Linked DNA regions of Homo sapiens. The protein of the gene in region 1 purifies or fractionates together with the protein of each later gene. This does not show direct contact. Each region holds a gene or a part of one and is shown in the gene's direction. Other genes may lie near its edges. The genes, in order: BTNL8, CNTNAP3, ATRN and TMEM106B.

The links.
Region 2: the proteins of BTNL8 (region 1) and CNTNAP3 purify together in Homo sapiens (affinity purification with mass spectrometry; 3 studies listed by BioGRID and IntAct, with this or other methods). This does not show direct contact.
Region 3: the proteins of BTNL8 (region 1) and ATRN purify together in Homo sapiens (affinity purification with mass spectrometry; 3 studies listed by BioGRID and IntAct, with this or other methods). This does not show direct contact.
Region 4: the proteins of BTNL8 (region 1) and TMEM106B purify together in Homo sapiens (affinity purification with mass spectrometry; 3 studies listed by BioGRID and IntAct, with this or other methods). This does not show direct contact.

Annotation. Positions count from the first base shown.
Region 1 is NC_000005.10:180,901,580-180,909,544, forward strand, and holds part of BTNL8 (butyrophilin-like protein 8 isoform 2 precursor), read left to right. Parts: intron 1-766; exon of another isoform or gene 767-795; coding exon of another isoform or gene 796-817; intron 818-842; exon of another isoform or gene 843-918; intron 919-7,006; coding exon 7,007-7,354; intron 7,355-7,965.
Region 2 is NC_000009.12:39,095,551-39,103,515, reverse strand, and holds part of CNTNAP3 (contactin-associated protein-like 3 isoform 1 precursor), read left to right. Parts: intron 1-800; coding exon 801-1,019; intron 1,020-3,365; coding exon 3,366-3,605; intron 3,606-7,965.
Region 3 is NC_000020.11:3,465,811-3,474,463, forward strand, and holds the start of ATRN (attractin isoform 1 preproprotein), read left to right. Parts: upstream 1-5,207; 5' UTR 5,208-5,262; coding exon of another isoform or gene 5,263-5,297; coding exon 5,298-5,707; intron 5,708-8,653. UniProt on the Homo sapiens protein: Involved in the initial immune cell clustering during inflammatory response and may regulate chemotactic activity of chemokines. May play a role in melanocortin signaling pathways that regulate energy homeostasis and hair color.
Region 4 is NC_000007.14:12,234,878-12,242,842, forward strand, and holds part of TMEM106B (transmembrane protein 106B), read left to right. Parts: 3' UTR 1-7,965. UniProt on the Homo sapiens protein: In neurons, involved in the transport of late endosomes/lysosomes. May be involved in dendrite morphogenesis and maintenance by regulating lysosomal trafficking.

The DNA of each region.
Region 1 (7,965 bases):
AAGTGGGTACTATGCTGAGCAAGAAAATCAGGCCCTGTCCCCAGAGAGCCAAGAGCTGTGCAGGGGAGGCTCACAGAAAACATGTAATTGTCACACTTGAAGCAAGACAATGAAGAAAGTTTCAAAAGCGAGGTGAGGACATACATGTACCAAGAATTTTTTTTAAAAAAAATGAAGGCAAGACATGTTGACAAAGCACTAGGCGAACCACCTTTCAGTGCTAAAATAAAGTGGAAAAAATTACTACACAAGCGTAAAAGGCACATGCTATGGAAAATATAAGTCACACGTGAACGTGCTAAAGAACAAATTTACAGAAAACAGACTGCAAAATCTTGTTTCAGTGTCACAGCATGTCTTTCAGAACTTGGCAGAACAAGCAGATTTTCAAAAAAAACTAAGGAAGTACAAATAATTGTGTGCGCCATGGGCAGAAATGTAACATTCCTCTATAGTAGCCATAAAATATTGATATAATATTGTGCTTGAAGGAAACCTTAACGAATTGCCGCAAACTGGAGACTTTATGGCCCATACTCTTCTCTGGGCCATTAGAAAGACGTCAACTTTGGTTTTCAGCAAGGACGATGGAAATGGGGATGTTTGGGTTTTTTTTTTAATTGAAGCAAATGGGCAGATGGGAGAGAATGTGGCAATAGAACCTCCTGGAATCAAAGGGTCTACATTCAGAAAGAGACTTTTTCCTCTGGATAACATGGTTTTCTCATCTTAAAAATAAAAACATTAATAATACACATTTCTGCAGGTGCTCCTCAAGATCGAATGAAGTAACTGATGTGGACATGGTTTGTCAAATGTAAGGAGATACACAAATGCAAGTCACTGGCTTTAGAAATAGGATTGTGATGAATGTTTCCCCCTGATGCACATCTCCAGCCCAGCCCAATGGAGCCCTGAGTAGGTCACACTATAAAGGGTTTTTTTTTTTGTTTTTGCTTTTATACTTTAAGTTTTAGGGTACATGTGCACATTGTGCAGGTTAGTTACATATGTATACATGTGCCATGCTGGTGCGCTGCACCCACTAACTCGTCATCTAGCATTAGGTATATCTCCCGATGCTATCCCTCCCCCCTCCCCCTACCCCACAACGTCCCCAGAGTGTGATATTCCCCTTCCTGTGTCCATGTGATCTCATTGTTCAATTCCCACCTATGAGTGAGAATATGCGGTGTTTGGTTTTTTGTTCTTGCGATAGTTTACTGAGAATGATGATTTCTAATTTCATCCATGTCCCTACAAAGGACATGAACTCATCATTTTTTATGGCTGCATAGTATTCCATGGTGTATATGTGTCACATTTTCTTAATCTAGTCTATCATTGTTGGACATTTGGGTTGGTTCCAAGTCTTTGCTATTGTGAATAGTGCCGCAATAAACATACGTGTGCATGTGTCTTTATAGCAGCATGATTTATAGTCCTTTGGGTATATACCCAGTAATGGGATGGCTGGGTCAAATGGTATTTCCAGTTCTAGTTCCCTGAGGAATCGCCACACTGACTTCCACAATGGTTGAACTAGTTTACAGTCCCACCAACAGTGTAAAAGTGTTCCTATTTCTCCAATCCTCTCCAGCACCTGTTGTTTCCTGACTTTTTGATGATTGCCATTCTAACTGGTGTGAGATGGTATCTCATTGTGGTTTTGATTTGCATTTCTCTGATGGCCAGTGATGATGAACATTTTTTCATGTGTTTTTTGGCTGCATAAATGTCTTCTTTTGAGAAGTGTCTGTTCATGTCCTTTGCCCACTTTTTGATGGGGTTGTTTGTTTTTTTCTTGTAAATTTGTTTGAGTTCATTGTAGATTCTGGATATTAGCCCTTTGTCAGATGAGTAGGTTGCGAAAATTTTCTCCCATTTTGTAGGTTGCCTGTTCACTCTGATGGTAGTTTCTTTTGCTGTGCAGAAGCTCTTTAGTTTAATTAGATCCCATTTGTCAATTTTGTCTTCTGTTGCCATTGCTTTTGGTGTTTTAGACATGAAGTCCTTGCCCATGCCTATGTCCTGAATGGTAATGCCTAGGTTTTCTTCTAGGGTTTTTATGGTTTTAGGTCTAACGTTTAAGTCTTTAATCCATCTTGAATTGATTTTTGTATAAGGTGTAAGGAAGGGATCCAGTTTCAGCTTTCTACATATGGCTAGCCAGTTTTCCCAGCACCATTTATTAAATAGGGAATCCTTTCCCCATTGCTTGTTTTTGTCAGGTTTGTCAAAGATCAGATAGTTGTAGATATGCAGCGTTATTTCTGAGGGCTCTGTTCTGTTCCATTGATCTATATCTCTGTTTTGGTACCAGTACCATGCTGTTTTGGTTACTGTAGCCTTGTAGTATAGTTTGAAGTCAGGTAGTGTGATGCCTCCAGCTTTGTTCTTTTGGCTTAGGATTGACTTGGTGATGCAGGCTCTTTTTTGGTTCCATATGAACTTTAAAGTAGTTTTTTCCAATTCTGTGAAGAAAGTCATTGGTAGCTTGATGGGGATGGCATTGAATCTGTAAATTACCTTGGGCGGTATGGCCATTTTCACGATATTGATTCTTCCTACCCATGAGCATGGAATGTTCTTCCATTTGTTTGTATCCTCTTTTATTTCCTTGAGCAGTGGTTTGTAGTTCTCCTTGAAGAGGTCCTTCACATCCCTTGTAAGTTGTATTCCTAGGTATTTTATTCTCTTTGAAGCAATTGTGAATGGGAGTTCACTCATGATTTGGCTCTCTGTTTGTCTGTTGTTGGTGTATAAGAACGCTTGTGATTTTTGTACATTGATTTTGTATCCTGAGACTTTGCTGAAGTTGCTTATCAGCTTAAGGAGATTTTGGGCTGAGACAGTGGGGTTTTCTAGATATACAATCATGTCGTCTGCAAACAGGGACAATTTGACTTCCTCTTTTCCTAATTGAATACCCTTTATTTCCTTCTCCTGCCTAATTGCCCTGGCCAGAACTTCCAGCACTATGTTGAATAGGAGTGGTGAGAGAGGGCATCCCTGTCTTGTGCCAGTTTTCAAAGGGAATGCTTCCAGTTTTTGCCCATTCAGTATGATATTGGCTGTGGGTTTGTCATAGATAGCTCTTATTATTTTGAAATACGTCCCATCAATACCTAATTTATTGAGAGTTTTTAGCATGAAGGGTTGTTGAATTTTGTCAAAGGCTTTTTCTGCATCTATTGAGATAATCATGTGGTTTTTGTCTTTGGCTCCGTTTATATGCTGGATTACATTTATTGATTTGCGTATATTGAACCAGCCTTGCATCCCAGGGATGAAGCCCACTTGACCATGGTGGATAAGCTTTTTGATGTGCTGCTGGATTCAGTTTGCCAGTATTTTATTGAGGATTTTTGCATCAATGTTCATCAAGGATATTGGTCTAAAATTCTCTTTTTTTGTTGTGTCTCTGCCTGGCTTTGGTATCAGAATGATGCTAGCCTCATAAAATGAGTTAGGGAGGATTCCCTCTTTTTCTATTGAATGGAATGGTTTCAGAAGGAATGGTACCAGTTCCTCCTTGTACCTCTGGTAGAATTCGGCTGTGAATCCATCTGGTCCTGGACTCTTTTTGGTTGGTAAGCTATTGATTATTGCCACAATTTCAGCTCCTGTTATTGGTCGATTCAGAGATTCAACTTCTTCCTGGTTTAGTCTTGGGAGAGTGTATGTGTCGAGGAATTTATCCATTTCTTCTAGATTTTCTAGTTTATTTGCATAGAGGTGTTTGTAGTATTCCCTGATGGTAGTTTGTATTTCTGTGGGATCGGTGGTGATATCCCCTTTATCATTTTTTATTGCATCTATTTGATTCTTCTCTCTTTTTTTCTTTATTAGTCTTGCTAGCGGTCTATCAATTTTGTTGATCCTTTCAAAAAACCAGCTCCTGGATTCATTAATTTTTTGAAGGGTTTTTTGTGTCTCTATTTCCTTCAGTTCTGCTCTGATTTTAGTTATTTCTTGCCTTCTGCTAGCTTTTGAATGTGTTTGCTCTTGCTTTTCTAGTTCTTTTAATTGTGATGTTAGGGTGTCAATTTTGGATCTTTCCTGCTTTCTCTTGTGGGCATTTAGTGCTATAAATTTCCCTCTACACACTGCTTTGAATGTGTCCCAGAGATTCTGGTATGTTGTGTCTTTGTTCTCGTTGGTTTCAAAGAACATCTTTATTTCTGCCTTCATTTCGTTATGTACCCAGTAGTCATTCAGGAGCAGGTTGTTCAGTTTCCATGTAGTTGAGCGGCTTTGAGATTCTTAATCCTGAGTTCTAGTTTGATTGCACTGTGGTCTGAGAGATAGTTTGTTATAATTTCTGTTCTTTTACATTTGCTGAGGAGAGCTTTACTTCCAGTATGTGGTCAATTTTGTAACAGGTGTGGTGTGGTGCTGAAAAAAATGTATATTCTGTTGATTTGCGGTGGAGAGTTCTGTAGATGTCTATTAGGTCCGCTTGGTGCAGAGCTGAGTTCAATTCCTGGGTATCCTTTTTGACTTTCTGTCTCGTTGATCTATCTAATGTTGACAGTGGGGTGTTAAAGTCTCCCATTATTAATGTGTGGGAGTCTAAGTCTCTTTGTAGGTCACTCAGGACTTGCTTTACGAATCTTGGTGCTCCTGTATTGGGTGCATATATATTTAGGAGAGTTAGCTCTTCTTGTTGAATTGATCCCTTTACCATTATGTAATGGCCTTCTTTGTCTCTTTTGATCTTTGTTGGTTTAAAGTCTGTTTTATCAGAGACTAGGATTGCAACCCCTGCCTTTTTTTGTTTTCCATTGGCTTGGTAGATCTTCCTCCATCCTTTTATTTTGAGCCTATGTGTGCCTCTGCACGTGAGATGGGTTTCCTGAATACAGCACACTGATGGGTCTTGACTCTTTATCCAATTTGCCAGTCTGTGTCTTTTAATTGGAGCATTTAGTCCATTTACATTTAACGTTAATATTGTTATGTGTGAATTTGATCCTGTCATTATGATGTTAGCTGGTTATTTTGCTCGTTAGTTGATGCAGTTTCTTCCTACTCTCGATGGTCTTTACATTTTGGCATGATTTTGCAGTGGCTGGTACCGGTTGTTCCTTTCCATGTTTAGTGCTTCCTTCAGGAGCTCTTGTAAGGCAGGCCTGGTGGTGACAAAATCTCTCAGCATTTGCTTGTCTGTAAAGTATTTTATTTCTCCTTCACTTATGAAGCTTAGTTTGGCTGGATATGAAGTTCTGGGTTGAAAATTCTTTTCTTTAAGAATGTTGAATATTGGCCCCCACTCTCTTCTGGCTTGTAGGGTTTCTGCCGAGAGATCCGCTGTTAGTCTGATGGGCTTCCCTTTGAGGGTAACCCGACCTTTCTCTCTGGCTGCCCTTAACATTTTTTCCTTCATTTCAACTTTGGTGAATCTGACAATTATGTGTCTTGGAGTTGCTCTTCTCGAGGAGTATCTTTGTGGCGTTCTCTGTATTTCCTGAATCTGAACGTTGTCCTGCCTTGCTAGATTGGGGAAGTTCTCCTGGATAATATACTGCAGAGTGTTTTCCAACTTGGTTCCATTCTCCCCATCACTTTCAGGTACACCAATCAGACGTAGATTTGGTCTTTTCACATAGTCCCATATTTCTTGGAGGCTTTGCTCATTTCTTTTTATTCTTTTTTTTCTAGACTTCCCTTCTTGCTTCATTTCATTCATTTCATCTTCCATCGCTGATACCCTTTCTTCCAGTTGATCGCATCGGCTCCTGAGGCTTCTGCATTCTTCACGTAGTTCTTGAGCCTTGGTTTTCAGCTCCATCAGCTCCTTTAAGCACTTCTCTGTATTGGTTATTCTAGTTATACATTCTTCTAATTTTTTTTCAAAGTTTTCAACTTCTTTGCCTTTGGTTTGAATGTCCTCCCGTAGCTCAGAGTAATTTGATCATCTGAAGCCTTCTTCTCTCAGCTCGTCAAAGTCATTCTCCATCCAGCTTTGTTCCGTTGCTGGTGAGGAACTGCGTTCCTTTGGAGGAGGAGAGGCGCTCTGCTTTTTAGAGTTTCCAGTTTTTCTGTTCTGTTTTTTCCCCATCTTTGTGGTTTTGTCTACTTTTGGTCTTTGATGATGGTGATGTACAGATGGGTTTTTGGTGTGGATGTCCTTTCTGTTTGTTTTCCTTCTAACAGAGAGGACCCTCAGCTGCAGGTCTGTTGGAGTACCCTGCCGTGTGAGGTGTCAGTGTGCCCCTGCTGGGGGGTGCCTCCCAGTTAGGCTGCTCGGGGGTCAGGGGTCAGGGACTCACTTGAGGAGGCAGTCTGCCAGTTCTCAGATCTCCAGCTGCGTGCTGGGAGAACCACTGCTCTCTTCAAAGCTGTCAGACAGGGACATTTAAGTCTGCAGAGGTTACTGCTGTCTTTTTGTGTGTCTGTGCCCTGCCCCCAGAGGTGGAGCCTACAGAGGCAGGCAGGCCTCCTTGAGCTGTGGTGGGCTCCACCCAGTTGGAGCTGCTTTGTTTACCTAATCAAGCCTGGGCAATGGCGGGCGCCCCTCCCCCAGCCTCGCTGCTGCCTTGCAGTTTGATCTCAGACTGCTGTGCTAGCAATCAGCGAGACTCTGTGGTCATAGGACCCTCTGAGCCAGGTGTGGGATATAATCTCGTGGTGCGCCGTTTCTTAAGCCCATCGGAAAAGCGCAATATTCGGGTGGGAGTGACCCGATTTTCCAGGTGCGTCCGTCACCCCTTTCTTTGACTCGGAAAGGGAACTCCCTGACCCCTTGCGCTTCCCGAGTGAGGCAATGCCTCGCCCTGCTTCGGCTCGTGCACGGTGCGCGCACCCACTGACCTGCGCCCACTGTCTGGCACTCCCTAGTGAGATGAACCCGGTACCTCAGATGGAAATGCAGAAATCACCCATGTTCTGCGTCGCTCACTCTGGGAGCTGTAGACCGGAGCTGTTCCTATTCGGCCATCTTGGCTCCTCCCCCTCACTACAAAGGGTTTTGATGATTTATCTTTTGTATGTCTTCCCACAGGGCAGTGGCAGGTGTTTGGGCCAGACAAGCCTGTCCAGGCCTTGGTGGGGGAGGACGCAGCATTCTCCTGTTTCCTGTCTCCTAAGACCAATGCAGAGGCCATGGAAGTGCGGTTCTTCAGGGGCCAGTTCTCTAGCGTGGTCCACCTCTACAGGGACGGGAAGGACCAGCCATTTATGCAGATGCCACAGTATCAAGGCAGGACAAAACTGGTGAAGGATTCTATTGCGGAGGGGCGCATCTCTCTGAGGCTGGAAAACATTACTGTGTTGGATGCTGGCCTCTATGGGTGCAGGATTAGTTCCCAGTCTTACTACCAGAAGGCCATCTGGGAGCTACAGGTGTCAGGTCAGTTTCATATTTCATAACTTAGTTGTCCCAAAGAACCATCCTGGACTTTATAAGTGTTTTTTTCAATAAGGAAATTTTAAAATTTTAGGTCATTTAGTTAGAAGGCAGCATTCTATACTCTACGTTCCTTCTGTCTTGTGTGTATAGTTCTATGTGTTTTGTCACATGTTTAAATTCAGGTAACCACCATCACATCAAGGTATAGAACTACCCCATCATCACGAAGATCTCCCTCTGTCACCCCTTCATGGTCACACCCACCCCTTCTCAGCCCCTGCCTGGGGTTTTCCATCTCCCTGATGCTGTAATTTCAAGAATGTTACATACACAGCTTCACACCGCAGGTGACCTTTTGAGATTGACTTTTTAAATTCAGCATAATGCTCTTGCGATCTATCCAAATTATTGCTTGTATCGATACTTTATTTCTTTTTTTTCCCCACTGTCAAAATAGTTTTCCTTATGAACATTTATTTTTAAATTAACAAATAAAGATTCCTGCTCACTTGTCCTACAAATTTTTTGTTTATCTGATACAGCAGGGAGCAAACGTCAGCTCCAGGAAGCTGTGACTTCCCCTGACAATCAGTTGCTCAATGCTCTGTGTT
Region 2 (7,965 bases), on another chromosome or scaffold:
CAGCCTCCTGGGTTCAAGCAATTCTCCTGCCTCAGTCTCCTGAGTAGCTGGGACTATAGGCAGGCACCACCGTGCCCAGCTAATTTTTGTATTTTTGGTAGAGGTGGGGTTTTCCCATGTTGACCAGGCTGGTCTTCAACTCCTGGCCTCAAGTGATCTGCCTGCCTCGGGTTCCCAAAGTGCTGGGATTACAGGTGTGAACTGCCACACCCAGCCAGTAATCATTTTTAAGAGAAAATAAAACAATGAAGCATGAAGCACGTAATAATCCATTAAAATGTCATGCCTTCCCTAGAGTACAGAACAGCAGAGCCAGAGCTTTAAACCAAACTCATCACATTGTTTACTGAATTCCAAAAATATTTGACCAGACATATTGTTTTTTATGTACCCAAAGCTTAATTTATGACTGTCAAAATTTACATTCAGTGTTTATAGAATTAGATGAGACTTTGAGCCGTTTGTAAATAAAATTACTGAAACCTCAAAAACAAATACTATTTGGTATTCTAGCTATAGGTACATAGCTATGGGTAGTCCAGCTATGGGTACATATCTCTACTATTTAGGACTTAACAAGGTTGAATTGTGAACTCTGAGGATAAATATGTTAAAATCCGTTCTGTTTTCCTCCAGGATACAGATTTATTCTGCCCCCACCCCAACTCACAGTCCCGTTTTTCTGCATCGCCGTCATTATCTCCTTCCATCCTGAGCGTGCCTTCATGTTTTCCTGTGTCTGCACAAGACTCAATTTTCTGTGAATTTGCTTGAGCAATATTCATATCTAATATTTCTAGCTCCCACAGAAGTGACCTTTTCCTTCGATGTGGGGAATGGACCTTGTGAGGTCACGGTGCAGTCACCCACTCCCTTTAATGACAATCAGTGGCACCACGTGAGGGCAGAGAGAAATGTTAAAGGAGCGTCTCTTCAAGTTGATCAGCTTCCTCAGAAGATGCAGCCTGCCCCTGCTGATGGGCACGTTCGTTTACAGCTCAACAGCCAGCTCTTCATTGGTGAGTGCTGGTGGTTTATAACTGAATTTAGTGTGAGTCCAGAGAGGGACCAAAAGAAAATAAGAACTGTGATGTACTGAGAGCAACAGTTGCCAACAACAACTACTGCTTATTGGTACTATTTGCTGATAACCTGGTAGGTTCCAGGAGCTTGCTGTGTGCTTCTTATTTGACATTTCTTTTTTTGTTTGTTTGTTTTTGTTTTTGTTTTTGTTTTCAGACAGAGTCTCACTGTGTCGCCCAGGCTGGAGTGCAGTGGTGCAATCTCAGCCCACTGAAACCTCCACCTGCCGGGTTCAAGCGATTCTCCTGCCTCAGCCTCCTGAGTAGCTGGGATTACAGGCGCAGGTGCCACCACGCCTGGCTAATTTTTGTATTTTTCATAGAGACACGGTTTTACCATGTTGGCCAGGATGGTCGTGATCTCTTGACCTGATGATCCACCCACCTCAGCCTCTCAAAGTGCTGGGATTACAGGCGCGAGCCACCGGGCCCTGCAGTATCTCAGTGTTTAGGTATCAATGTTTAGGTATTGTCATCTGTTTACAGATGAGATAGCCAAGCCTCAGAGAAGTGGAGTAACCAGCTAATGAGAGGGATCCCAGGATAGCCGACCCCCAAACTTGAACCATTCACATTGCAGAGGATTGGCATATGTGACAGCTATATTTTATCAACACTATTAGTGAGATCATTAGACATTTTTATCCATTCCTTCAGTTTCACTTCTCGGTGGAGTTAGAGAGCTTGTAATTGGGACAGAAGTCCTCCAGGGTCCACTCAAAACCAGATCGCAGGATACCCGCTGATTGGAAGCAGCACTGCGCACCTCCCCCGCGGCCAGGCTTCCAGGAGCCCACTCCCGGTTTTCCTCGCTGCTGTTCTCACTTCTGGGGCTCTCTCATCACAGGCTCCTTGTTTATAACCTGGTCTGGCTCATCTGTTCTTGCACTCCATTTATTTAAAGGTGATAGCTCTGGAAGTCTTTCCTTTAGTTTGCTTACTTACTGTTTTATCACTGTTGTTTATTTTTCCATATTGCTTTTGAAACTATTCTAACTTAGGAGCTACACAGATTAAAGCTCTCACTTGTTCATTTCTTAAGTGTTTTAAAGTGAATAAGGATGCAATCTAATTAAAACTGGACTAAATCACAAATTATCATCCAACCTAATTTACAGGGAAGGGTAGATACAACTTCCAGGTACTAAATGCTACACGTGAACCCACGTATGTATGTGGATGTGGATGGGGTGTTATACCATGACTTCCTAAAACCTAGCTTCAGGCGTGGTTAGCTCTTCTATTAAGGTGCAGTGAGGCTTTTTCAAAGGACATGAAACCATCAAACTACTGGAAAGGAGGACTACACGGAGGGGTCAAACCAAGAACTTGATTTTCTCACTTGTAATCTTGGAGATTATTTAAGGGAATGCCTAGAAACACAATTAGCGTAAAATTCACCTAGAATCAGCATTCATTGCGGTGGATGAATCACTGGCTTCAGAATCACCCACAAAGCTGATTGATAGTTCAGATTTGGGGCCCCCACCTTAGGCCCACCGAATTGGAATCTCTGGGAGGAGGCTAAAAACTGCATTTTCCAGAAACTCTAGGTAATTTCCATGCTCCTAACATTGAGAATTGTCGCCTTCATAATGGTGTTTGTCACTACACAGGTGTTGTAAACCTCTCTAAATGGTTTCTTCAGCATTCAAGTTTGACATGACAAAATGTGCATGCATGCAGTATTCAATTACTGTTTAGCACTGTACCCTCTGAGAGGAGGAGATCCTGGGGTACGGTGTCACCCCTTCCAACTTCCCCTCCTTTGCCTCTCCATTTCCTTTCACACTTTATTTTTAGAGTCCATCCAAGTAAGAAATTATCCATATATATTTTTATTATTGTGAAAAATTTGGAAGTTCATACCTAACCATTATAATGCACATTCTTATTCATAAAGAAATTAAAATAATGTTTGATGAATACACATTCTTATTCCTAAACAAAGTAGAATAGTGTTTGATGTGGTTTATATTATGTATTTTGTTCTTTGTGAAGGAACTAAAGTGAAATTCTTTCTTACCTGAAGTTAAGGAAATGTTTTAGGACTATTTGCCAGACTCACCATGTTTGAAAGTTATGTAAATAAGTGTTTTATTCAATGTCATTTAAAGCTTCATGTCTCATAACAGTTACATTTTCAAAATTGTGTATGTTCACAAAATTTTTTGACACATTGTGATTATTGCCACTCTCCATAAGGCCTGAGTTTGACATGGACATAAAATCCTGAATAAAATACCAAGGAACACATTTCTATTTGCAGTGTTTCCGTTGTAGGTGGAACGGCCACCAGACAGAGAGGCTTTCTAGGATGCATTCGGTCTCTGCAGTTGAACGGGGTGGCCCTGGATCTGGAAGAAAGAGCCACAGTGACGCCAGGAGTGGAGCCAGGGTGTGCAGGACACTGCAGCACCTATGGACACTTGTGTCGCAATGGAGGGAGATGCAGAGAGAAACGCAGGGGGGTCACCTGTGACTGTGCCTTCTCAGCCTATGATGGGCCGTTCTGCTCCAATGGTAAGTGTGACCAAGGAGCAGGTTATAGGGAAAGTACATGAAACTTAAATAACATGAAGAATGCTTCTGGCATTTGATATTATAAAGAGAGGATAAGATTGAATTATTTGAAATGGAATAATTTCTGTACCAAATTCCTCTATTGAATTTAGAAGGGATATGACTGTTTTTGAAAACTTAAGGCTATCAGTCCTCTCTGGGTTTCTTATTTAGAAGATCTCTGGGTTACCCCTAGCATCTGTTCAATGCTAATCCTCTTGAAATAATTTGGTTTTCAAAACTCTGTCCTTGTACTGTTCTAATTTTAACATCAGTAAACCATCATTGTTATTTTTGTTTTTAATTTTTAGAGACAACGTATTGCTATTCAAGCCTCTCTGTTGCCCAGGCTGGACTTGAACTCCTAGGCTTGAGCAATCGTCTTACCCATTGTCCCTTGTGACAATGACTTGAAGTGATTCAAAAGGCCTTTATAGAAATGTCTTTTCTTATAAAACAAGCATACTAACTAGAAGGGGAAAATAATATTTAAATATTGACAGTCATTAACAGGATCACTCAAACACTGTGCTCTATGATGTTTGACTCTTCTTAGAGGAGTGCAGTGGGGTATCACACAGCTTCTGCTCAGGTACAATCATGTTTTCAAAAGAAAAGGGCTGGGCGTGGTGGCTCATGCCTGTAATCCCAGCACTTTGGGAGGCCAAGGCAGGCGGATCACGAGGTCAGGAATTCAAGACCAGCCTGGCCAACATGGTGAAACCTCATCTTTACTAAAAATACAAAAATTAGCCGGGCATCCCAGCTACTCGGGAGGCTGAGGCAGGAGAATTGCTTGAACCCGGGAGGCAGAGGTTGCAGTGAGTAGAGATCGCACCACTGCACTCACTCCTGGGCGGCAGAGTGAGACTCCGTCTTGGGGAAAAAAAAAAAAAAGAAAAGGAAAAAGGGACTGATTTTAGTATTAAGTACTCTGTACTGACTTATTTAATATATTTATAATACTTTTATGAAACCTCTTACAATATTGAATCATCAGAGCTAAAATGTAGTTGTGTTTTTAAGTGTCTCTGGGCTGTTACACTTACTATTTTTAGCAGCAAAACAGGCTTTAATCACTATAAAATTGTGTGACTTTCAAAAAAATTTTGAGGATTCATTATCTAGAAGTCATTTAAATTTTCAAAAGGTCTTGCATGTGTCTTTTATCATTCCTGAAGATCTCTGTGCTAACAAATCTCATAGCTCTGGTGCAAATACAGAGCCCTTTTTATATCTCAAGCCAACATCAGGAGTAACCACTCCTTCATGAGCACAAGTGCTGATTTCTAAATCATTCCCAATCCACATTTGCTAAGTGCAATTTGAATGTTATTTTATAACCCAAAATTTTCTTAAGGATAGACATTATATAGTAAGTAAATGGAAAATGGTCCTCCAGTGGCTGGGGCATATGTTATAGTTAGATTACCTAATCTAATAAGAATGATCTGGATTTTCAGTAAATTCTTTATATTTTATGGAAATGGAAAGAGTGGAGTAGTATTCCAAGACAATGATCATCACCCAACATTGTCTTTTTATTTACAGATATATTTGGGGGGTGTGTGTATGTGTATGTGTGTACTAAACACATTTTTGGAATTAACTTGATATAAAATTAAAATATCAACCTTTCATAAAGTGTTTTAAGAGAATCTGAAAGCCCTTCAACTTTTCTCTCTCAGAATACTGTAGATACCACTTTGGATTAGCCTTTCTATCCAGACAGTAAATTTGAGAAACATCTTTGGCATAAAAGAACATTTCTAAATTCTGACCTTGAAGGAGGGTTGGTCTTCAAATCACCTTTTCTCTAGTTACTTCAGGAGCTCTGTTTCATGCTTCCTACAAAGCAAATCGATTTTTAAAGAGGAGGTAACATTCAAATAAAAAACCTGGTACTCTGGCATTTCCAGGCTGGCCACATAAGGAGCTCTGTAAACCCTCTCTCATACGAAACAAGCATAACTAGTAAAAATTATTATTTTAAAAAACAACTATTGAAAGTCTTTAGAAGATGTCCTAAGGAAATACATCAAATGAAGAAACATTTATTAATCAGTAATAATAGTGAGAGTTTGAGGCATTTAAGCCAAGACCCTCTCCCAGCACCTCCCCATCCCTAGCTCAGTATGACGGAAGCTCCACTCTATATGGATATAGCCAAGAAGCCAGAGGTTTCCTCTCTACCCAGGTCCTACTCCAGAGATACTGCATTACCCCAAGATTGGGTGCCAGCATTTCTTGTCATCCCCAGTTTTGTAGGACAGAAGCTCTGTCCACGCAGAAACAGCTGAGAAGTCTGGGGTTTCCTTCCTACACCAACTCCTCATTCCAGGACATAAGGTCTTCAGGTGTGGCAGCTGGAAAATCCTGTGTCCCAATTGCCCTCACTCCAGCTTACTTGTAAGGAACAGTTTCTCCACCAGGAGAGGCAAGGCAAGAAGTTACCTTTCCCACCCTGTGCCCTACTTGTAAGCAGAGGTTTTACTACAAAGGAGCAGGCCACTCTCACTCCCCACAGCTTCAGAGCAGTGAGGCACATTCAACCAAGAGGTAGAGGGAGGCCATGAAAATACACAGCTTGGTAGCCCTCCCCAAGTGAACTGATTTCTATTTGGAACAGAGGATGGATAAGTTTAAGCATAGTGGTATGAAGATATTGGCAGTAAGCAATTAAGAGAATTTTGATAACTCCAAGAGAGTAATGAGTTAAGCCAGGGAAGTTTAACAGAGAAAAGAAAAAAGAGTCAGCAAACTTGAAGCAAGATCAATAGAGATTATGTATCCTGAAGAATACAGAGAAATAATAATGAAAAAAATAGATCATCAGAGAAATATCAGACATAACTAAGCACACCAATATATACGTAATTGAAAATACCAGGAGAGAGAGAAAGGATCAGAAAAAAATATTTGAAAAATAATGGTTGAAAACACCCCCAAATTAATAAAAATCATTAATCTAAGATACAGAAACTCAGTGAAATACAGATGACACAAAGAAGTTTATATCCAGACACATCTTATTAAAAACTTTGAAAGCCAAAGTCAAGAAGGAAATTTTAAAAGCAGTAAGAGAAAAATCATATATACAAGGAAACGCCAGGATCAACAGCTACCTTCTAATCTGAAAGAATGGAGGCCACAGGACAGTGAGATAACATATTCAAAGAGATGAAAGAAAACTATTGTCATGAAGAAACTTACACCCAGCAAAACCGTCTTTCATGTTCAGTAGCACAGGATGACTATAGTTAACAATAATTTATTGTATATTTCAAAATAACTAGAAGAGTGGAACTGGAATGTTCCTAACAAAAAGAAATGATAAATGTTTAAGGTGATGGATATCTCAGTTACCCTGATTTGATCATTACACATTGTTTGGTTGTATCAAAATATTACCTCTACCCCATAAATAACGTACAACTATTAGGTATTCATAAAAACTAAAAATTAAAAAAGATAGTAAATATATCCCTACTTACAAAAAACAGAGAATTCACTGCTATTAGCCTGCATTAGAGGAAATAACAAAGAACGTTCCTTCAGGTTGAAGGGATATAACCCAGACAATAATCTGAATCTACACACAAAAAACAAATAGCACTAATAAAGGTAAGTGTGCAGGTAATTATAAAAGAAAGTATAATGTCATATTTCTTACCCTTTTCAGTGCTTAACTATTTTAAAAAGCAATGTATAAAACTATAATAGAGAATATACAAATATATAATGTATATATTTTCATTGTTGGGCCTATAGAAATATATTACAAAAAAACAGCACAGAGGAGACAGATGGGAGCAAGGCTGTACTGAAATAAGGAATGACACCAAATGGTAACATGAGTCAGAGGAACAAAGAAAGAGAACTAGAAATGGTAAATAAGAGAGTTTATAGACAAAGTCTATAAATATTTACTTGATCTTTTTTTTTCTCAGATTTTTTAAAAAGAGAACAAATTATATAAAATAATAATGGGTTTGGTATGCATAAAAATAGTTCCAAAACAGAAGAAATAGAGCTATGTAGAAATAACTTTTCTAAATCTCACTTGTATTAAGTTAATGTAAACCTGAAGCAGATTATTGATAAGATATATATAATGCAAGCTTAGAGCAATCACTAAAGAAAATAAAACATTGTCGTGAAATATATTAAAAGACCTATATACCAAAACGTAGTAGGATTTATCCCAGGATTTCAGGAGTGGTTCAACAAATGAAAATCAGTCAACATATTACACAAGATTAATAGAATGAGAGGGGAAAAAAAACATGATTATCTTAATTGTTGCTGAAAAAAAAACATT
Region 3 (8,653 bases), on another chromosome or scaffold:
ATTATAGCAGTCACAGGAAACTAATATGTCATCTGTAATTAGGAGAAATTATAAGGGATTTTAATCCAAAAGGATGGCTTCAGTTTGGGAACTTCTAATTTGAAGTACTTCATGGCCATATTTAGCAAAGTCATTTGTCTTTTAACAGTAGTACTGTTTTCATAGTATCTTATCTATACACAAGAGAAAATTTTTGTTCTCTGTTGTAGAAATTTGGGGGAGGGGGCATGAATCTAGCTCATCCAATAGAAATTTCAAGTCTTCTGCCTTTAAATTGATGTGCTCATCCCAGTGCAGCGTCTTGTCCCTTGAGCTGACATAAAGGTGAACTCCTGTACTTGTGGGACTTGTCTGAGGAGGCCACCAGGAGCTCTGCCAACAGCTCAGAGGTATAACTTTATGCTCCCAGATCAGGGACTCCTAAACACTTTCTCTTACAGTCTGCCAAGGACTATTGGAATCTTATTGCTGGTTGGTTGACAGTGGGATATCCATTGGAGCTTTCAATGGCACTTTATTCCTACCTAGAACCCTCTCAGTTGTGTTTGTTCCAAACCTTCAGGATCAACCTCTTTCACAGGCAACGTAGTACCTTACCTTCTAGGTGAGATTTTAACACCTATAATTAGAGAATTGCTTGGTCACACATTGACTAAAAGTATAAGGATAACTTTGGGACAATAAAATGTATCGATGTTTCAAACAGTGCAGAATGAGGACCGGTGATGTTTGCGGGAAAGTCAGATGGTCAATCAGATCTTACTTGAGCAGTATTCAATCTTTGCTTTCTAGTAGGTATTTGATAAACAAACATTTGTTATATGTATTACACATACATGGAGCTATCTATTTGTATCTATTGGTACCCCTCCCAAATTTCCTTTATAGGATCCTTCTTACTGCTGTGAATGTTGTCTGCTGAAAGAGATGTGTGTACAAAATGCTGCTCCCTTACCTCAAAGTGGAATCAATTCTATGGTACAATTCATGCTCTAGGGCTCTCCATAGGATCAGGCTGAAGCTCAACTCTAGATAAGACCAGACCACATCTTTTCTCAACCCCCTCCTGGGCTCTATCTTGCTTCCTTCACTGTGTTTCTTCCGAGAGCAATCTTCCAATGAATTATGCACTCAGATCCTGTTTCAGGGTTCTGCTTCTAGGGAATCTGACCAAAGACACTGCATGAGTAAAAGCCAAAAATTATAAAATCCATCTATGTCCATGACTTGGAGACAATGCAAGCAAAGAAACAGGAAGAGATGACATGAAATCAGAGAAAGGGCCAAGGTGAGTAAGATGCCTTACTTAAGTGAAAAAGAATAGGCATAGGCACCTTCAAACCATCCTGCACTAACCTAGTGGAGACAAACCCTTTTGGTCATGCAGTTGGCAAGAACAATGTTATTTTAGTGTCTGGACTTAGAGTAATTTGTATCAAAGCCTGGGTATTCTTTGCCACTGGCATTACAGTTTCTGGGACCTGGAAATGACCACCATGACAAAGACCAGTGGAAAAAAAGGGATTTCAGGCAGAACTGCTGCAGAATCTTGCTGATAAGGCACTGGGGTACAACAGAGGCACTTCTGAAGCTACGGTGACTACGGTGACCTCCTTCATGAGAAGCAACTGGACAATGATACTAGTGTATTACATATAGATGACTAGTTGTAGATTATACATTTATATACAATTATACTGTCGTTCTTAATTCTTAATCAAGTCCACATCACAAGACTTATTCTTGTCCTTGGAGGAACCAGGGTACAGAGTATTCTGGTAATTTATTATTGTGTAACGAACTGTCCCCAGTTGGCTCATTTATTTGCTTATGTATCTGCAGTTTGGGGCGGGTTCAGCAGGAACAACACCCCCCTGCTTCATGATTGGGGCCCCAACTGGGAAGACTTGAATGGCTGGGGGCTGGCTTCCTCACAGCATGGTGGTCTCAGGGTAGCTGGACATCTTTTATGGCAAGTGTTCCAAGACACTTCAGGAGGAAGCTGCAAGACTTCTTATGACCTAGCATAAAGTCCCATTTCTGGGACCTCAGAAATCCCAGTACATCACTTCCACCATAGTCTATCAGTCAAGCAAATCACTAAGGCCAGGCTAGATTCAGAGTGGGGTGGGGGTGGGGGTGGGGGTGGGGCCGGGGCCAAGGGTTAGACCTGATCTCTCCATAGAAGGAATGTAAGAGAATTTGCAGCCATCTTTAATCTATCACACAGACATAGAATGTGTAGGGGACTTTTTGATAAACGCAGTAAAGGAAAAAGAAGATAGCAGGTAAGATTTTGTTTCTTTGTTTATTTGTTTTTAGAGACAGGGTCTTGATCTGTTGCCCAGGCTGGAGTGCAGTGGTCCAAACATAGCTTACTGCAGCCTCAAACTCCTGGGCTCTGTGATCCCCCTGCCCCAGCCTCCCAAGTAGCTGGGACTACACATGCACGCCACCACATCTGACTAATTTTTTAAAAAATTTTTTGTAGAGACAAGGTCTCACTATGTTGTCCAGGCTGGTCTCAAACTCCTGGCCTCAGGTGATCCTCCCACCTTGGCCTCCCAAAGCACTGGGATTACAGGCATGAGCCACTGCACCCAGCGTGTTTGTTTTTTAAGGACAAAATAATTTGAGCATGTTTGAAAGCTAAGGAAAAAGAACCAGAGAAGAGAGTAGATTAAGGAAGTAAGAAAGAATGTTTGCTGCAGCAAGATTCTAAGGCTTCAGAGTAGCAATATCTAGTCTAGGGATTGCTGTTCTTCAGATGCACACCTTTTCTGTTATCCCTGAATGTTGGTAAAATCATGTGAAACTTCACAGTGTGGGTTCAGTCTTGCTGTGGGGAGGGAAGGGAAGGAAAGGGCTGGTTCACTTCTGGCCTGGAAGATTAGGGGGAGCAATGTCTCCTACAGCTAGGGCATGGCCTATGCCAGCCTCCCCATCTGATGGGGTCCTGCCAGAGGGTAGGGCCATGTCTTCAATTTCAAAATCCTACATGGCAAAAACATAACCTGCAAACCAGAATGTCAGTGCTAGGGCCTAGGCCGAACAATAGTTTTCCTGTAGGAATGGGGAGTATGTGTGGATGTAGAGCTGGGGGTAAGGCTTTTGTGCAATTCAGCTTCACCAGGCTTGAAGAAGATGCAGTGAGGACAGTCAGGACCTGAGTATGAGAGTGGGACCTGGGTATGAGTGTGGAAATCCATCTTAGAACCTTAAAATTCCATACTCTGAGGTAAAGCTGAGAGGCTCCACAGGTCTATGAGGGTTTTTCTTTGTTTCCCAGGGACTGTAAGGTGCCCAGATTCTGAGGTAGGTGCCATAGGAATATTCCTCATAGCACAAGCATTATGTCGGACAATGTTCTGCTTATCTATTACTGAGTAACAAACCTCTCTAAAACTTAGAGGCTTAAAATAACATAAATCATAATTTATGAAAAATTATAAATAATTCATCACTTAAGGGTTAAATGATAAATGAGTTATTTCTTAGGATTTTGGATAAGTCACAGTTAGGAAAGACCTGTTACTGTTGTAGGTAACATGGAACAGCCCAGACGGTTGGAATAACCCAACCCAGATAGCTTCTTCACTCAATGACTGATCCCTTAGCTAGGATGGCTCCACCAGCTGAGCGGCCCAGCTCTCCCTCTCCAAGTCCAAGTGGTCTCTGCACATGGTTTCTCTCCAGCAAGGTGGCTAACGGGGTGCAGCTCATGACCACCAACAGCTCAAAATCAAGGCTGCCAGGTCTTTTTTTTTTTTTGAGACAGAGTCTCGCTCTGTCCCCCAGGCTGGAGTGCAGTGGCGCGATCACGACTCTCTGCAACCTCTGCCTCCTGGATTCAAGCGACTCTCCTGAGTAGCTGGGATTACAGGTGTGTGCCACCACGCCCGGCTAATTTTTGTATTTTTTGTAGAGACAGGGTTTCACCACGTCGATCAGGGTGGTCTCGAACTTCTGACCTCGTGATCTGCCCGCCTCGGCCTCCCAAGGTGCTGGGATTACAGACGTGAGCCACCGTGCCCGGCCAAGGCTGCCAGGTCTTTTTTAAGCTCAGAGCTAGAAACAAGACATTGCTACTCCTACCAACTTCTTCTATTGGTGAAATTGAGTCATGGTTTCTCATGGTCTCAATCATGACCCAGCCCAGATTCCAGGGTCAAGGACCATAAAAGGCTACATTGATGGAAGACATGTCTCATTGAGGGACACCAGAGTAACAACTACCAGACAAGAAGGGGCAGGTCTGTGTGAGCGCCATTTCCTAATTCTATATTGCCCACTCTTCAGAGAAGATGGTTGGAGGGCAAATTGTGGGGAGCAAGGTAACTCCAAACTTTTACAGAATTAAAGGTAGGGGGTCTGGTCAGCTACAGTCCATCTGTTATCAAGAGGCCTGGCTGTGTGTCTTCATTCAGTTTATTAGGCATTTACTGAGCACAGCCTACATGCCAGGTTCTTCATTTTTTGACACAGGGTCTTGTGTTGCCCAGGCTGGAGTGCAGTGCTGCGACTGCGGCTCACTGCAGCCTTGACCTCTCCAGACTCAAGCGATCCTCCTGCCTCAGCCTCTGGAGTAGCTGGGGATACAGGCGCGCACCACCATGCTCGGCTAATTTTTGTATTTTTAGTAGAGACAGTGTCTCACCCTGTTGGCCAGGCTGGTCTCGGATCCCAGAGATCAAGTGATCCGCCTGCCTCAGTTTCCCAAAGTGCTGGGATTACAGGCGTAAGCCTCCGCGCCCGGCCTATGCCAGGTTCTACATGTGTTCTTTCTTGACTCTTGTGTTACAGAGGCTCGAATGAAGCCTGGCTTCTACAGTACCGCACCCAGCACCTCGCTGCGATGCAGCCTCCTGTACCCTTTCCGTCCGGCAGCTGGAGTTAGGGCAGAGTGCCGGGTCTCTAGGAGGGCAACACTCAACGCAGTCGGCTCCTAGGCATCCAGTGGGGCTGCAACCCCGCCGCCGGGGACGAAAGGCGAAGGGGGAAAACTAGAGCTTTCGCCGGCCGGGACAGCGCAGCCGGGTTTCAGCTCGTTCTACGGTCCACGTCAGAAGATCGCCTCCGGCGCCGCGGACGCCGGAGACCACTGTCTGCGCCCCCGCACGCACGCACCCACGTACTCGCGCACGCGCGCGCCGGCCCCGCCCACCGCCCCGCTGTGGCCCCTTTGGACCGCACGAGCCACCGTCCGCACAGCCCCGCCCCGCACGGCCAGGCGAAGCGGAGCCGGCCGTGCGGTGTGTGTGTATGTGTTCGCGGGGCGCCGTCTCAGCCCCGGGAAGATGGTGGCTGCAGCGGCGGCAACTGAGGCAAGGCTGAGGAGGAGGACGGCGGCGACGGCAGCGCTCGCGGGCAGGAGCGGCGGGCCGCACTGGGACTGGGACGTGACCAGGGCTGGGAGGCCGGGGCTGGGGGCCGGGCTGCGCCTCCCGCGGCTGCTGTCTCCACCGCTGCGGCCACGGCTGCTGCTGCTGCTGTTGTTGCTCTCGCCGCCGCTGCTGCTGCTGCTGCTGCCCTGTGAGGCCGAGGCCGCGGCGGCGGCGGCGGCGGTGTCGGGCTCAGCCGCAGCCGAGGCCAAGGAATGTGACCGGCCCTGTGTCAACGGCGGTCGCTGCAACCCTGGCACCGGCCAGTGCGTCTGCCCCGCCGGCTGGGTGGGCGAGCAATGCCAGCACTGCGGGGGCCGCTTCAGGTGAGTGGCGGGTGGTGTCGGAGGGTCGGGTCCAACCAGAGGCTGGGGCTGAGGGGCGTTCGAGACGGCTCCAGGTCAGAGGGAGATGCTGGACAGAAAGTGGAGAGGGTAGGGCCGCCCTATGGGGTTTGAGGGCCATTTGCTTCCGGGGAGATCATCGTCTCTGGCCTGGGGTCTTTCTCTGTTGGAAGGTGAAAAGGTGTGGGGCAAGGGTGGGGGCACCCCGACGGTATTTGGGTGCTTAGGTTAGTTAGATGGGAAGAATGCTGAGGGACCCAAAGAGCATCAAAGCCGATCGCTCTAAAACTCGGCGTGTTTCAGCTAAACGAGGTATCCAAGGAAAGGTGGTCGAGCCAGGTTTGCTTGAACACTTCCTTTTAACATCCACATGTGCCCTAGGACCCGATGAGTTCCCCGATGCACTGGAGATGTGGGGTGCTCTGAAGAAACAGGGCCCTGGAAATGCTTTGTTGGCTGGAGATAAAAGGGAAAGGGTAGCATTGTAAGATATTAGGGATAGAAGGACCAGTGGTCCTTCTAAAGGAAAGTGAGGAAACTAGCCTTTTGGCAAAAGCTCCCTGGAGGTGGCAAATTGGAATAGGGTCTGTGGTGAAGAGGGAATGGAAGGAGATTCCTATTTGCCTTGGTTTCTGGACAATATGAAGTTCTGAATTGGCTTAGTTTGGGGCAGTTCCTCTTGGAGAAATCAATAAATTAATTAGCAGTTATCGTTATTTGCTTCAGTTGTGCAATGATTTTCCAGATAATACAGACAGATTAGCCAGACTTTGGCCTTGTCCACAGGGAGTTTGGAATATAGCAAGAGAAAGATAATGTGCGCACATAACCCTAGTCATAAGGGTTACAGAGTCATTCACGCCTTTGACAGGTATTTAGCTTACTGAACACATGTCTGATGTGGGGGAGTGGGGAAATGTGAACAAGACAGACAGGGCCTCTGCTCTCATTGACCTTAACATTCTAGTGGGAGCAACAGGCACTTAACAAGTAAATAAATGAGAGAAATAAACATGGTAATTTCAGGTAATGGTAAATGCTATCAAGAAAATAAAAACAGCGTGGTCTGATAGAGAATTATAACCGGTGGTGACTCTTGGAGAGGGTTCTCATTTGAAATGACATTTGATCTGAGACCTGAATGAGGCAACAGGGAACTTGTGGGAATTCAGGGATGGAGAGGTTGTGGCTAGCTGGAGGGATGCAAGGAGGACTTTGAGGAGGCGGTAACATTGGATTTGAGCATGTAAGGTTAAGTAGGATTTGGAAATGTGGAGCTGGAAAAAAATTACAGATGGAAAGAAGGGTGCAAACAAAGTTGTGGAGGCTGGAAAGTAAAGTTTTGCTGCTGCCTATGTGGAAGAGAGTTGTGAGAGAGGAGTTTGGAATAGCAAAATTGTAGACTTAGGTAATATTAGGTCTTCTGAGGAACTCAGAGAACGTTGAGCAGATGAGCTCTTTAGTTTTATGGATGGAGAAACCAAGTTACTTCAGGACCACTGATGCAGTGAAGCTGCTTTTGTAACTTAGGGTGTTCTGATTTATGAATTCCATTAACCTACATGTATTTGTTGAGGGCTCCTATGTTTTAGGTTGTGAGATACAGTGGTATACAAGACAGGCACAGTCCTGCTCTTACGGAGCTCACATTTCAGCTTGGGAGTAAAAAAATCCAACAAAAATTTTATTGTAATTTTGTTTAAGGCTGTGGAGGTAAAGAGCAGGAGACAAACAGAGGACTTGACTTAGTCTAGGGGTAAGGTAAGTCACTGAGGAAGCGATGTGAAGTCTGAGGGGTGAGATGGTACTACCTGCGTGAGGGGTGGGGTGCTGAGGGGCCAGCAGGTACAGAGGCTTGGGGTTGAAGCGGATGGAAGGCCAGGTGGCAGGAGCAGAGAGAGCAAAGGGGAGCTTGGCAAGACTGGAGAGAAAGGCGGGAAGCCAGGCCAAGTGGAGATCTGTGGGTTGGATTGAGAATTTTGACCTTTAGCCCAAGAGCTGTGAAATGGCGTAGTTCACGCCTATTTTCATGACATTATAGGCTTTTAGATTGGAGCCAGAATACAAATGGCCTTGAAGGTGAGGCCAGGGCATTTTCCATTTGAGAAGCTTCCAAGGTCAGGTGAATGGATGGTTGAGTCAGACGAGGATCCTTCAAGTTCTGAAAACCTGGGACACTGTGGTAGGCAGTGGGGACCAGCGGTGTGGGAAGGGGACTTCATAGCAAGATCAATCTGTAATGTTCAGAGTAGGTACACTCACTTTGGGCATGAGAGATAGGGGGCAGCTAGGTGGGATCTGTTGGCATGGGTCAGAGCAGTGGTAATGAGAGCTTGTAGAGGTGAAATGGACAAGTCTTCCGTGTAAACTGGTTTGCTCTTGGAAAGGTGGGGGATGGTGAGGGAAAGAAAACTAGATCCTGTCTTGGGTGGTTGAGAGGACAGTGATACCATTAACAGACACAGGGACACAGGAGCAGGTGTTAGACATTTAATTGCATGCATGCTGAGTTTGGGGTGCTCTCAGAGTACACACCTGGCAGATGTTAAGTTTGGAGTCATCGACCTATGAGGGAGATTGCCAGGGAGCTCTCTCTGAGAGTCCACATGGAAAGCCCAGAGGATTGGATAAGAGCTACTTGTTGCAGGGAACAGGCAGTCCTGACACTGGTTGTCTCAAATAGTGTCACAGGTGAGTGAAGGGACTCCCCTGCTTATTGTGGACATTCCCTTTGAGCTGATTCTAGGTGATGTCAGTGCTGTTTCCTGGGTAGACAATTATGACTTTGGTCCTGATGATACCATTATATTTTGTGGGCTTTGGGATTTTGCATTTTTAAAAATGAAAGTAGGAGGAACTTATGACTCTGGTCTTTTAAAAAAAACTCAGTAGGCCAGGCGTGGTGGCTAACACCTGTAATCCCAGCAC
Region 4 (7,965 bases), on another chromosome or scaffold:
GAAGAGGAAGGAAAGGCATGAAGAAGTTGAGGGACTGGCTGAAGATCACGTACTTACTAAGTAGTACAACTGGAGCAAGATCAAGTATCTCTGTCTCCCATATCTGTGTTCTATCATTTAAAATATATATTGGAAATCCCTGCTGACTCAGATTGGTATGATTAAAAATGAGAGGAAAGTTCAAATAGTTAGTAGTGACAAACTAATACTGCTGGACTAAGATTTTGGTAGCATTGTTTTCTAAAATATTTTAAATGGAGAATGAACACTTATAAAATGCTTTGGAACATAATCTTTAGCTTAATTTTCTGTTAAAATTTAGTACCCCTTCATCATTCCAATAAAGATAAGACTGATCCATTGTCTAAGGAAATTATTTATAAATAATAGAGATTAATTTATTTGAGATTTGAAATAAGAATAGTATGAAAATATTAGATACCACATAAATTGTTTGAAATTACTGAATAACCATCTTAAGTATGGAACATTTAAATGGCTATATTTTATTTGTGTACAGTTTTTCTGTGCCTTGTTAGGCCAGTGAAGCAATTATTTTCTCTAAGAAAATGACAATAAAATATAACACACTTCAGATTGTCTGATTTACAGTTTGGAAAGGACACCGCAATGTTCAAATAGGTAGGAGACCATCAAAAACACAATTAAAGTAACATATTAGGAGACTTGAAACTTCAGCCTAATAAATCCTTCATGGTTCTTAGCCTTATTATTGTGATATAATTCTAGATATTTTCTTGGAGGGCATGTGCCCAACTCTCCCGCACCCCATTTTGTTTGTCTTTTAAAGTTCTTAGAATAAACAGTTCTTTATATAATAATTATATTTTATTTAAGAAAATAGTTTGTTAGGTACTTTTTAAAAGATGTAAATTTTTAAATTTACAAATACATATGGGTCTTTGATAAGCAATAGGAATTGAATTACAAGTTACTAGGGTTATAAGCAAAAGGTTGCTTACCATAATGTCATTAGGTCACGATTTTTAGCTCACATCTGGAAGCAGCAACTACTTGGCTCAAGTACATATAAGAGTAATTAGTTTTATTCTCTCTTTTTTATAAAATCGGGTTTCAGATGAGATGTTTATCTTAGACTATTTTAGGGAAAAATTTTACATGTTTGAGATGGTGGAGTAAAAAGACTGTTAAACATTTCTTTTAAAAAATTATTTTTACATTACAACAATATATTTATGATGTGTTCAGATCAAAAATTTAACTTCTGTGTCCCAGATCTACTTTCAAAGTGAGATTTTCACTTGTCAGCTTAAATTTCTGACTAGAACTAACATTTGTGTATTTTTGTGCTTAGTCGGAATACAAATTTCACAGTGGATTTTTGAAGTTTGTCCTTAAATTGGATAAAATCAAGTGATTAAAGTTACTAAAGAGATAAAAATGGTAATTTCCATTTTTAAAAGTAATTTGGTTGTGTTTATAGTTATTTGTACAAGTATTTATCACAGACTCTAAATTGAAAAATGTAGTATGATCTATATTTGACCCTAAAAATGTTGGATTAATTTAACAAATATGGCAGATTTTTCATAACTAAGTCTTAAGTCTTCTAAAAGGAAGCTGTTACCCTTCTGTTTTTAATTACATTAATTGAAATGTGTTTTAAGAGATACAATTTCAGCATATTTTATATATTAAAAAACAAAAAAGGATTAGTATTGAGCCAGTGGCCAAAAGGTAATATTACTACCATGTAGACTGTTATAGTTCAAATTGTCCCACTTCACCCAGAATTTTAGAAACTAGAAGTCTGGGAGGTACTATATCAGCTGTAGTTGGGTAATTCCAAGTGCTGATAGTACTATTCATCTTTTTTATTATTGTGTCAGATGAAACAAATGCCAAGTTGCAAAATATGCAGATTTTTATTATATAATGGTTTTAGGCATAAATTATTAACAAGCCATGCCTTATGTGTTTCATCTTATATTTTTCTTTAGAACTAAACTATAACAGATTTTGGAAAATGATTTGACGTGCTTGCTCACTTGATTGACTTGGTCAGATATTTGAATGATGGTATTACCTAGATTCTAATCCTTGATTCTAGTTATATAATAAATAATATAGAATATGAAAATATGTTTGGGCATTTACTGTTTATATTATGTAGTAGCCTCCATCATGACACACTTACTACATTTATGAATTGAGCAGTTCTGTAATTGTAATTATTATTGCTGTTCATGTAACAAAACATGCTTATAATAGCAAACAAATAGAAATGCCCCCAAAATGCTATTTTTTTAATTCAGTTATAACTGTTACTCTTGTAGTTGTGTATGACGCAATAAAATTTGTAAAAAAATTTCAGCATGAAAAATAAAATTTGTATCACTTATGTATTTTGGCTATGCTTTTGAAATTTCCTTAACATAAACAAATCAGTGTAGATATTCAAAATCTTTTACCTTTAATCCTTTTCATCCTTATAGTCCTTACCTGAACTCTACTTTAGCATTATCTTTGATTTCTTTTTTTCATTCACTTAACTTCCAATCAGTACTCAAGCTTTATCCATTCTACCTCTGTAATGTCTCTGGAATTTATCTCATACGTGAAATTTCCCTTGATATTATAGACATACCTTGGATATATTGCAGGTTTGGTTCCACACCATATCGATAAAGTGATATAATCAAGCAAGTTACACACCTTTTTTTGGTTTCCCAGTGCATATGAAAGTTATGTTTACATCATACTGTAGTCTATTAAGTGTGCAATAGCATTATGTCGAAAAACACAATATATATGCCTTAATAAAAAATAGGCTGTGTGCAGTGGCTCACACCTGTAATCCCAGCACTTTCGGAGGCCAAGGTGGGAGGATCACCTGAGCCCAGAAGTTCAAGACCAAATTGGTCAACATGGCGAGACCCCATATAAAATATATACATACACACACACACACACACACACACACACACACACACACACTATTGCTAAAAAATGTTAACGATCATCTGAATGTTCAGAAGTTTATACTCCTTTTGCCGGCACAGGATCTTGTCTGGATGTTGTTTGCTGATAGATCCATGTAGTGGTTACTAAAGTTGGGGTGGCTATGGCAATTTCTTAAGACAACAATGAAGTTTATCACATCTATTGCCTTGTCCTTTCATGAAAGATGTCTCTAGCATGTGATGCTGTTTTGATAGCATTTTACCAATGGTAGGTCTTTTTTCAAAATTGGAGCCAGTCCTCTCAAACCCTGCCTCTGCTTTATCGACCATGTTTAAATAATTTTCTAAATTCTTTATTGTCATTTCAGCAGTGGTCTCAGCATCTTCACCAGGAGTAGATTCCAACTCAAGAAACCACTTTCTTAGCTCATTCATAAGAAACAATTCCTCATCTGTTCAAGTTTTGGCATCAAGTTGTAGCAATTCAGTCACATCTACAGACTCCATTGCTAAATTTTAGTTCTCTTGCTATTTCCACATCTGCTGTGACTTCCTTCACTGAAGTCATGAACCCCTCAAAATTATCCATGAGAGTTGAAATCAATTTCTTTCAAACTCCTGTTAATGTTCATATTTAGACCTCTTCCCCTGAATCACAAATGTTGTTAATGGCATCTAGAATGGCAAATCCTTTCTGGAAGGTTTCAATTTACTTTGCCCAGATCCATCAGAGGAATCACTACCTATGACAGCTATGGTCTTACAAAATGTATTTCTTATATAGTAAGATTCAAAAGTCAAATTTACTCCCTGATCCATGGCTGCAGAATGCACGTTGTGTTAAGAGGCATGAAAACAACATTAATCTATTTGTACATCATCAGAGCTGTTGGGTGACCAGGTACATTGTCAATGAGTAGTAATACTTTGAAAGGAATTTTTTTTTCCAAGCAGGTCTCAACAATGGGCTTAAAATATTCAGTGAACCGTGTTGTAAACAGATGTCATATTATCCAGACTGTTCCATTTATTGAACACAGGCAGAGTAGGTAAAAGTTTTAAGGGTCCTAGGATTTTCAGGATGGCAAATGAGCATTGGCTTCAACTTAAAGTCACCAGCTACATTCACCACTAAAGAGAGTCAGCCTGTCCTTTAAAGCTTTAAAGGCAAGCATTGACTTCTCTTTAGCTATGAAAGTTTTAGATGGCACCTTTTTGTAAAAGAAGGTTGTTTTATCTACATTGAAAATATATTGTTCATTGTAACCACTTTCATCAATGATCTTAGCTAGATATTCTGGGTAACTTACTGCAGGTTCTCCATCAGCACTTACTGCTTCACCTTGCACTTTTATATTATGGAAACAACTTATCTCCTTAAACATCATTAACCAACCTCTTGGTAGCTTCCAACTTTTCTTCAATAGCTTCCTCATCTCTCTCAGCCTTCATAGAATTGAAGCGTGTTAGGGCTTTGTTCAGGATTAGGCTTTCACTTAAGGCAATGTTGTGGCTGGTTTGATCTATTGAAACCACTAAAACATTCCCATATCGGCAATAAGGCTGTTTGATTTTCTTATCATTCATGTTTTCTGGAACACTTTTCAATTACTTACAGTAAGGAAATAGCACTTTTAATTTCCTTCAAGAACTTTTCCTTTGCCTTCACAACTTGTGCAAGAGACCTAGCTTTCAGCCTATCTTGACTTTCCAAGATTGTCCTTGGTGAGAAATGCTTGATTACTAGGTGTAATTATTTCTAGCTTTTGATTGAAAGTGAGAGATATGTGACTCTTCCTTTTACTTGAACAGTTAGAGGCTATTGTAGGATTATTAATTGGCCTAATTTCAATGTTATTTTGTCTCAAGGAGAGAGGGATGTGGGAACAGCTGGTTAGGAGAGCAGTCCGAACACACACTTTTTTTTATTACTTTCACTGCCTTACATGGGTATGGTTCATGCTGCCTCCAAATACTTACAAAAACATCAAAGATCACTGATTACAGATCATTAAAATAGGTTTAATAATAATGGAAACATTTGAAATATTGCAAAAATTACCAAAATGCGACAGAGACATGAAATGAGAACATGCTGTTGAAAAAAATGGCACTCATAGACTTGTTGGACACAGGATTGAAAGAAACCAATTCATCAAAACCACAATATCTGCAAAACGCAATAAGGTGATGCACAATAAAAGGAAGTATATCTGCACTTCCTTCTTTTTTACTGAAAAAGCCCAAGTTCTTACTCTGGTGTTGAGAACCTTTCATTAGCTGGCTACAATCTCAGTTCACAATCATTTCTTATTGCCCTTCAACAATGTCCTGACCAAATCGAGTTCTTTCTCATTGGGAACAGTTCATTCCTTTATCCCTTCGCTCATTCTGTTCCTTTTTTCTTAGAAAAATTATTTGCCCATGTTTTTTATCCCCCAATTCTATCTTTTTCAATGCCCACTTCGTGTCCAACCCCTCTCTACTTTCCCTCTAAACTTACTCAAACACTTGGTGAACTTTTTCTGAATGTTTTTTCTGAATGTTTACTTTTAAAGGAGTTGCCCAGTCACAAAGTTTGAGCCAAGTTTTTTTGTTTTAAACTTGTTTTAAACTTTTGTTTTCATCAACTTTTTTCAAACAATTTTTGTCAGCTTAGAGGTTGTGTTTTAATTACTATTTTTAAAATCTTGTATGAGGTAGTATGATTTGAAATTAGATGGAATGTGCCCAAAATTATCTCTGTAGAATAATATGGAAAAACGAAAATGAAAAGATGTATTACCTGAATGTGCTCCTCCTAGCCAGTTTCTCAAGGGAGAAGAATCATTAATAAGTTTGTGAGGCTTTTTTTTTTTTTCTGGTAGATTTCTGTTTCCTTGATCAGTGGTTTTTCAGAATTTTTTAAAGCTTGTGAAATACTTATTTGTAAATAGCATCTTATGAGGAACCTTGATATGTGACAAAACAGATGCTTTGATTTGAGAGCAGAAGACCTGCAGCCCCTGACTGCTCACCTTTCCAGGGACCCCTGAACATTGGCCTAGAGGGTAGTGTACAGTCACTTCTTCAGTGATAACTTACTGAGTGTGATTCAACAAAACTGCTTTGGTTTATGGGTGAAACATAATTTATAACTAGGCAAATGTCAGCTTAAATTTATATTTTCTAAATAGCACTGAAAATGACAATAGACAAATGTAATTTCTGATTTTTAAGAAATGATTTTCCATTTTAACATACATTTTAAATGTTTTGTCTTCAAAGGGAATCCTTAAAAATGATATATTGGAAACCACTGATTTCTTATTTTCATTTCATGAATTTCAGATTCATGAATGGAATATATTGATAATAGCATTTTTTAAGTTGCCCCAAAAAGATGAAATACAAATAATTTTAATCCCAAATCTATTTCAGACACCTAACTTTTTTTTTATTTTTTATACTTTAAGTTCTAGGATACATGTGCAGAACGTGCAGGTTTGTTACATAGGTATACACGTGCCATGTTGGTTTGCTGCACCCATCAACCCGTCATCTACATTAGATATTTCTACTAATGCTATCCCTCCCCTAGCCCCCTACCCCACAAAAGGCCCCAGTGTGTGATGTTCCCCTCCCTGTGTCCATCTGTTCTCATTGTTCAACTCCCACTTATGAGTGGCAACATGTGCTGTTTGGTTTTCTGTTCCTGTGTGTGTTTGCTGAGAATGATGGTTTCCAGCTTCATCCATATCCCTGAAAAGGACATGAACTCATCCTTTTTTATGGCTGCATAGTATTCCATGGTGTATATATGCCACATTTTCTTTATCCAGTCTATCATTGATGGACATTTGGGTTGGTTCCAAGTCTTTACTATTGTGAACAGTGCTGCAATAAACATATGTGTGTATGTGTCTTTACAGTAAAATGATTTATAATCTTTTGGGTATACACCCAGTAATGGGATTGCTGGGTCAAATGGTATTTCTGGTTCTAGATCCTTGAGGAATCACCACACTGTCTTCCACAATGGTTGCAATTTACACTCCCACCAACAGTGTGTAAAAGCTTCCTATTTCTCTACATTCTCTCCAGCATCTGTTGTTTCCTGACTTAATGATTGCCATTCTAACTGGCGTGAGATGGTTTCTCACTGTGGTTTTGATTTGCATTTCTGTAATGACCCGTGATGATGAGCTTTTTTTCATGTTTGTTGGCTGCATAAATGTCTTCTTTTGAGAAGTGTAAGGTACTTAATTCTTAAATTAAAAAAAAATACCCGGCCGGGCACGGTGGCTCACGCCTGTAATCCCAGCACTTTGGGAGGCCGAGGCGGGTGGATCATGAGGTCAAGAGATCGAGACCATCCTGGCTAACAAGGTGAAACCCCGTCTCTACTAAAAATACAAAAAATTAGCCGGGCGCGGTGGCGGGCGCCTGTAGTCCCAGCTACTCGGGAGGCTGAGGCAGGAGAATGGCGTGAACCCGGGAAGCGGGGCTTGCAGCGAGCCGAGATTGCGCCACTGCAGTCCGCAGTCCGGCCTGGGCGACAGAGCGAGACTCCGTCTCAAAAAAAAAAAAAAAAAAAAAAAAAAAATACCCTTCTTTAACAAAATCAAGTTTCAAGTTTTCTGCCTTGTTGATAACTTGTTAACATTTTTTTATTTTAGAATAAATCTAAACAGAGACCACACTGATATCTGTAACAACCTATGTAAAGTTAAGATTAAGGTTAAATCACATTTTTCACAGAGAGTGTTTTACTGAAATATAAACTTTTATGCATCTGATATTATCTAATTGTGTCCTTACTGGGTAACTTGTGTATTTTTCAAGTTAAAGGATTTCCTAAAAATGCTTATTTGAATATTTATGTCATTTGTCACACATACTTTCAAAACATAACCTTCTTCAACGAGTATCTTCTTTTCCTTCCTAAAATACTGTTAATAGCTGGCTATTTTGTAAGCCTGTATCTGGTTTAAAAAAAAGAAGTGAATATTTTCAATACTTATGAACCATAGAATTCTGT